2 linked regions of the Homo sapiens genome follow. The gene in region 1 interacts genetically with each later gene. Each region holds a gene or a part of one and is shown on either strand. Other genes may lie near its edges.

Evidence for each region.
Region 2: changes in LSM12 (region 1) and ETAA1 are lethal when combined (synthetic lethality), as found in Homo sapiens cells (one large-scale study listed by BioGRID).

What each region holds. Positions count from the first base shown.
Region 1 is NC_000017.11:44,056,569-44,060,393, forward strand, and holds part of LSM12 (protein LSM12), read right to left. Parts: intron 1-3,825. UniProt on the Homo sapiens protein: Nicotinic acid adenine dinucleotide phosphate (NAADP) binding protein. Confers NAADP sensitivity to the two pore channel complex (TPCs) by acting as TPC accessory protein necessary for NAADP-evoked Ca(2+) release.
Region 2 is NC_000002.12:67,409,755-67,412,708, reverse strand, and holds the end of ETAA1 (ewing's tumor-associated antigen 1), read right to left. Parts: intron 2,799-2,954; coding exon 2,671-2,798; 3' UTR 620-2,670; downstream 1-619. UniProt on the Homo sapiens protein: Replication stress response protein that accumulates at DNA damage sites and promotes replication fork progression and integrity.

The sequences.
Region 1 (3,825 bases):
TGTGGTCCCAGCTACTCAGGAGGGTGAGGCAGAAGAACTGCTTGAACCCAGGAGGCAGAGGTTGCAGTGAGCTGAGATTGCACCACTGCACTCCAGCCTTGGTGACAAAGGAAAACTCCTCTCCAAAAAAAGAAAAAAAAAAAATACAGCCTGGTACAGTGGCTCACACCTGTAATCCCAGCACTTTGGGAGGCCGAGGCAAATCACCTGAGGTCGGGAGTTCAAGAACAGTCTGACCAACATGGAGAAACCCTCTCTACTAATAATACAAAATTAGCCAGGTGGGGTGGCACATGCCTGTAATCCCAGCTACTTGGGAGGCTGAGGCAGGAGAATCACTTGAACCCGGGAGGCAGAGGTTGTGGTAAGCTGTAATCGTGCCATTGCACTCCAGCTTGGGCAGCAAGAGTGAAACTCTGTCTCAAAAACATAAAAAAATAAGACGGACGTGGTGGGGCGCACCTGTACTCCCAGCTACTCGGGAGGCTGAGACAGGAGAACTGCTTTAGCACAGGAGGCGGAGGTTGCAGTGAGCTGAGATAGAGCCATGGCACTCCAGCCTGGGCAACAGAGTAAGACTTTTTTTTTCTTTTTTTTTTGAGACGGAGTCTCGCTCTGTCTCCCAGGCTGGAGTGCAGTGGCGCGATCTCAGCTCACTGCAAGCTCCGCCTCCTGGGTTCACACCATTCTCCTGCCTCAGCCTCCCAAGTAGCTGGGACTACAGGCACATGCCACCACGCCCAGCTAATTTTTGCGTTTTTAGTAGAGACGGGGTTTCACCATGTTAGCCAGGATGGTCTTGATCTCCTGACCTCGTGATCCGCCCGCCTCGGCCTCTCAAAGTGCTAGGACTACAGGCGTGAGCCACCGTGCCTGGGTGAGACTTCATCTTAAAAAAATAAATAATAATGTGCCAGGTACAGTGGCTCACGCCTGTAATCCCAGCACTTTGGGAGGCGGAGGTGGGCGGATCATGAGGTCAGGAGTTCAAGACCACCCTGGCCAAGATGGTGAAACCCTGTCTCTACCAAAAATACAAAAATTAGCCAGCTGTGGTGGCAGATGCCTGGAATCCCAGCTACTCCGGAGGCTGAGGTAGAGAACTGCTTGAACCTGGGAGGCAGAGGTTGCAGTGAGCTGAGACAGCACTACTGCATTATAGCCTGGGAGACAGACGGAGACTCTGTCTCAAAAAAAAAACAAAGTAATAATAATAATAATAATACATAAAGTCAAAGTTTCCAAGAACCTACCAAAGACGTTAAGTGAGAGCCTAGTGTAATGGCATAAATCTTCTATGGGCCCTTTGTCACAATGCCCTCCTTCCCCTGCCTTATCTCATCCCATAATTCAATGAGCATTAGTTAGCTACAATAAAAAAATCTGGGCCGGGCACAGTGGCTCACGCCTGTAATCCCAGCACTTTGGGAGGCTGAGATGGGGGGATCATGAGGTCAGGAGATTGAGACCATCCTAGCTAACACGGGGAAACCCTGTCTCTACTAAAAATACAAAAAAATTAGCTGGGCGTGGTGGTGGGCGCCTGTAGTCCCAGCTACTCGGGAGGCTGAGGCAGGAGAATGGCGTGAACCCAGGAGGCGGAGCTTGCAGTGAGCCGAGATCGCGCCACTGCACTCCAGCCTGGGCGACTGAGCAAGACTCCGTCTCAAAAAAAAAATAATAAATAATAATAATAATAATAATAATTTGGGAGACATTAACTAACATCTGCCAAGTCTAATGACTTTAAAGACTGATCTACTTGGTTCATTCCTAAGTCTTTTCTACTAGACTACCCTGCCCCTGACCACAGAACATAGATGTTTTTCTTTACTTAGAAACGTTACCTAGGGGCTGGGCCAGTGGCTCATACCTGTAATTCGAATACTTTGGGAAGCCGAGGAAGGAGGATTGCTTGAGCCCAGGAGTTACAGACCATCCTGGGCCACACAGTAAGACCCTGTCTCTACAAAAAAAAACTAGGCTGGGCGCGGTGGCTCACGCCTGTAAACCCAGCACTTTGGGAGGCCAAGGCGGGTGGATCATGAGGTCAGGAGTTCGAGATCAGCCTGGTCAACATGGTGAAACCCCATCTCTACTAAAGATACAAAAAATTAGCCAGGCATGGTGGCGCACGCCTGTAATCCCAGCTACTTAGGAGGCTGAGGCAGGAGAATTGCTTGAACCTAGGAGGCAGAGGTTGCAGTGAGCCGAGATCACGGCACCACCGCACTCCAGCCTGGGCAACAGGGCAAGACTCCATCTCAAAAAAGAAAGAAAAATTAGCCAGGTGTGGTGGTTTGTGCCGGTAGTCCCAGCTACTTGGGAGGCGAGGTGGAAAGATCACTTGAGCGAACCCTGGAGGTCGAGGCTGCGGTGAGCTGTGACTGCATCATTTGCACTCCAGCCTGGGCACAGTGCGAGACTAACTAAAAAGAAACAAAACAACCACCCAGGTGTGGTGATGGGAGATTGTAGTCCCAGCTACTCAGGAAGCTTGGGCGGATCACTTGAGGCTATGAGCCAGGAGTTCGAAGCTGCAGTGAGTTATGATCATGCCACTGCACTCTAGCCTGGTCAACAGAATGAGACTATATCTCTAAAAAACAGAACACACACACACACATACACACACACACGAAACATAACTTAGCATTGTACATTATTCAGGGTACTTCATGTTGCCAAACTATGAGTTCCTTGGGCTAAACACAAAGTAATAGAAAAACAGGGGACTTGGCCAGGTGCAGTGGCTCACGCCTATAATCCTAACACTTTAGGAGGCCGACGCAGGTGGATTATCTGAGGTCAGGAGTTCAAGGCCAGCCTGGTCAACACGGCAAAACCCCATCTCTACTAAAAATAGAAAAATTAGCCGGGCATGGTGGCAGCAGGCGCCTGTAATCCCAGCTACTCAGGAGGCTGAGACAGGAGAATCGCTTGAACCGAGATCACACCGGGCAATGGACTGAGACCCTGTCTCAAAAAAAAGAATTCCCCCTACTGCAACCCTACTGTCCTCTCTCAAGCTTCCTCTTACATGCTACTGCTGGAGATAGAAATAAGACTTCTTAGCCTGAAGTGAACTATCATTCGAAAGCAAAACAGGCCAATTTCCAAGAAGTTGCTAGTTTATACCTTCCCTAGTTGAGCTATTATTAAGTATTTCCTGTATAAGCCCTTCTCTTCCATTTCCTGCTAGGTCAGAGTCAACAAATATCCGGTTTTTATCAACAGGTTTAATTAAGCAGATCACTTACTATGTCAGCAAGATGGGCCAATATGTGATGATACCTTTGACTAAAGTTAGAGTAGGCCGGGTGTGGTGGCTCAAGCCTGTAATCCCAGCACTTTGGGAGGCCGAGGCGGGCGGATCACAAGGTCAGGAGATCGAGACCATCCTGGCCAACATGGTGAAACCCCGTCTCTACTAAAAATACAAAAAAATTAGCCGGACATGGTGGCGGGCGCCTGTAGTCCCAGCTACTCGGGAGGCTGAGGCAGGAGAATGGCATGAACCCGGGAGGTGGAGCTTGCAGTGAGCCGAGATGGCGCCACTGCACTCCAGCCTGGGCGACAGAGCAAGACTTCGTCTCAAAAAATAAATAAATAAAATAAAATAAATAGAGTAGGCTAGTGCTTCTCCAGACTGCAAGCAACTGAAACTTCAACAGTTTTCTTCCAGACATCCCAGAGTACATTAGTTCCCTTCCATATGCTTAAATGATCCTCCATCTTAAGAAAAACTCAAGTCCGTGATCTTAAAAATGAGACTAACTTTTCACGTCATTCATGCAACATGTTAATAGCTGCCCGAAATAGCTG
Region 2 (2,954 bases), on another chromosome or scaffold:
GGTAGTATATAAGGCAGTGTTTCCCATGGTAGGATACATGTCTGCATACCACTGTCTGCAGTAAGCAACCCCAATGTTCCTGGGGTCCGAGTCATCTGTCTATAACAGAAAAAGATGAATGAGAGATAAGCTCCGCTTTCAACAGGCTCTTTTTGGAAATAATGGCATTATTAGCATCAGTCTGAGATGCAGAAACAGCAGCGGAACTTTAGGGGGAAATTGCCAGGCTACCAGTTGTCCCTTCCCCAGATTCCCTATAGACTAGGAAAGAGAAAAGCCAGGCAAACTATATAGTCAGCCCTCTGCATGCTCATTTATGGGCCATTCACCCCCTAATGTTTCCAACAAGGGCTAAAGGAAGAGTCAGGATAGGAAAGGAGAGTGGTATGAACAGGAGCAGTGACCCTAAAAACCAGTCATGTGAGGTTCAGATGTACAGGGCCATTACACCTGCCACCACCCAGAAGTGCTATAAAAGTTTTTTTTTTTTTTTTTTTTTTAAAAAAAGGGAGTCACTTAGAGAAAACTATTACGTAAATAATACTATGAGCTGTATAAGAATTTGGCAGAATTACCAGAGACACAAAATGACAAATTATAAAATAAGATTTATACAACTAAACAACACATAAAGGCATTATAGTATTGCTCAATGAAAGACACAATAATTAGTACCATTATGATCAGAGAGAAGCAATCAATTCCAGTGAAGATGGTTAGGTACGAGGTTCAAACAGACTTATTAGGCTGAGTCTAAATGAATGAACAGAATAGGCTAAAAGTACTCTTAAAAAAGCAAGCAGTAAGCAGGGAGGAGCTTAAGCAAGGACAGAGATATCCAAAGCATAGTCAGAACACAGTGAAGCCACTTTTAGTAAAAGATTCTCAGCTCTTTATTTTTGTACATAGAAACTACTTGCATTTATCTAGGTTATTATATATTCCTGGAAAAATAATATAGGTTAGCTAAACTCCAGTACTCCACTGTAGATATGAAAATACCATTTTTGATGTACAGTCTCCAACTTAAAATGGTTGACTTACAATTTTTCAACTCTAACGTGATGCAAAAGTGATATGCGTCCAATAGAAACCATACTTTAAAGTTTGATTCTTTCCCAGGCTAGAGATATGTGGTACAACATTCTCACGATGCTGGGCATCAGCTCAACTGATACTCTACAGTGTGCCGTATTGCCAGATGATGTGCCCAACTCTAGGCTAATATAAGTGATTTGAGCATGTTTAAGGTAGGCTAAGCTAAGCTATGTTGTCTGGTAGATTAAGTGTAGTAAATGCATTTTTAACTTAAGGTATTTTCAACTCATGATGGGTTTATTGGGATGTAACTACACGGTAAGTTGAGGAGTATCTGTATAGCTATAGGGCAGTAACTACCATATTATCACAGCTTTGAGACACTTGATAGTGATAAATGCCACACCATGACAGGTGTTTCATATCTCTAACTTTCTCTAGATCTCCTAAAACCATTTAAGAGGAATAAAGCATCCTCCCTGCCTTACGCCCTCTAGTTGGACTTCTATTACTGGTTTAGCAAATTCCAAATAGGCAAAATGGCAAAAAAAGAAAAAAACAAAACAGTAATAGAGAAGAAAAGATGAGTCAACTAAGTAAATTAATTGAGGGGAAAATTACAGTTACAGAAAAACTGAAAAGAAAAAAGATTCTCATTTTTATATCCTGGAAAGACTAATTCTTTAAAGCAAAATAAGGAACAATGAGCATTATTATCAAACAGTCCTTATTGTGCTTTTAATTACATCTTTTGTTTTATACTAGAAAATAATACTCCCTCAAGTTATTTTATGTACTGATACTTTGAAACAAATAGTATAATTGTTTAGGTGTCCAAATAAATCATTCTAATTGTAGCACAGCATTAACTTGCCTATGACTTTGAAAACAGTATTACTTTTTCTCACCGATACAATAAGGAAGCTGGACCAGATGACATATGAAGTTTCTGCCAGTTCTAAATGTTAATGATGCCACATTACTTTTGTAGACAATCCACTACTTCTTTTCCTCTATGTTAGACTTCTAAAATCAAAGTTTTCCTAAATATGGTGGAAAGTTTCCAAAATGTGTCACATTTTAGAATTATTAAAATTCAAATCCACTTCTAAGAACTGAACATAATTTCCTTACAAATAAAAAGTCCTTTATTTCATATCAACCATGTTCCTAGAAATATGAAAGTATTAATTAAAATCTGGAAGTGTATAAAAACCTTAAGCAACAGTTAATGAAAGTAAAACTACAAAAACAGTCTCTACTAACTTAGAAAGTTGAAGTTTTTTATTAGGAAAAGACATTAGAATAGGAAATAACGTAGATTACCTCTTTTTTGATGATCCTCTGCAATAATAGCATTTAAAAATATAACTACTTTCCTCTGTATAATATCCGTACATAATTGCTAACTTTCCTGAATTTCCAAAACTTTTGTATTTAATGACTTTCAAATACATGTCCAAGGAAATGTTTCATTTACCATTGCAAACATTGATTTATTAAATAAAGTAGAAGTCCAGGCTTTATAAAAGTCAGCATTACATTTCTCACAGAGAAATCAAGAAAAAAAATTTCCTATCAATCACAGATAGTTATCAGCAGTCTTCGTGAAGTCTTCCAACTAATATTTCATTAAAGAAATGAAGTGGGAGCTGCATTTACAGATGAGGCTCGTGCTTTAGCCATTCTCCGAACCAGTGCTTCTTGTCTTTTTCTCTGAATTTCTTCAGGAGAACACTTTCTATTTTTCTCTTCTTCCTCTAAAAATTCAACAAAAGATGAGTTTTACTTTTATAGCCTATAAAGTCATTCAATATGTGCTTTAATTTTTGCTTTTTTTAATCACCCAGATTTGCCATATTAGTTGGCTATTAAATCAAACTAAACTACTGAATATAAAATTCTAAGTACATAAT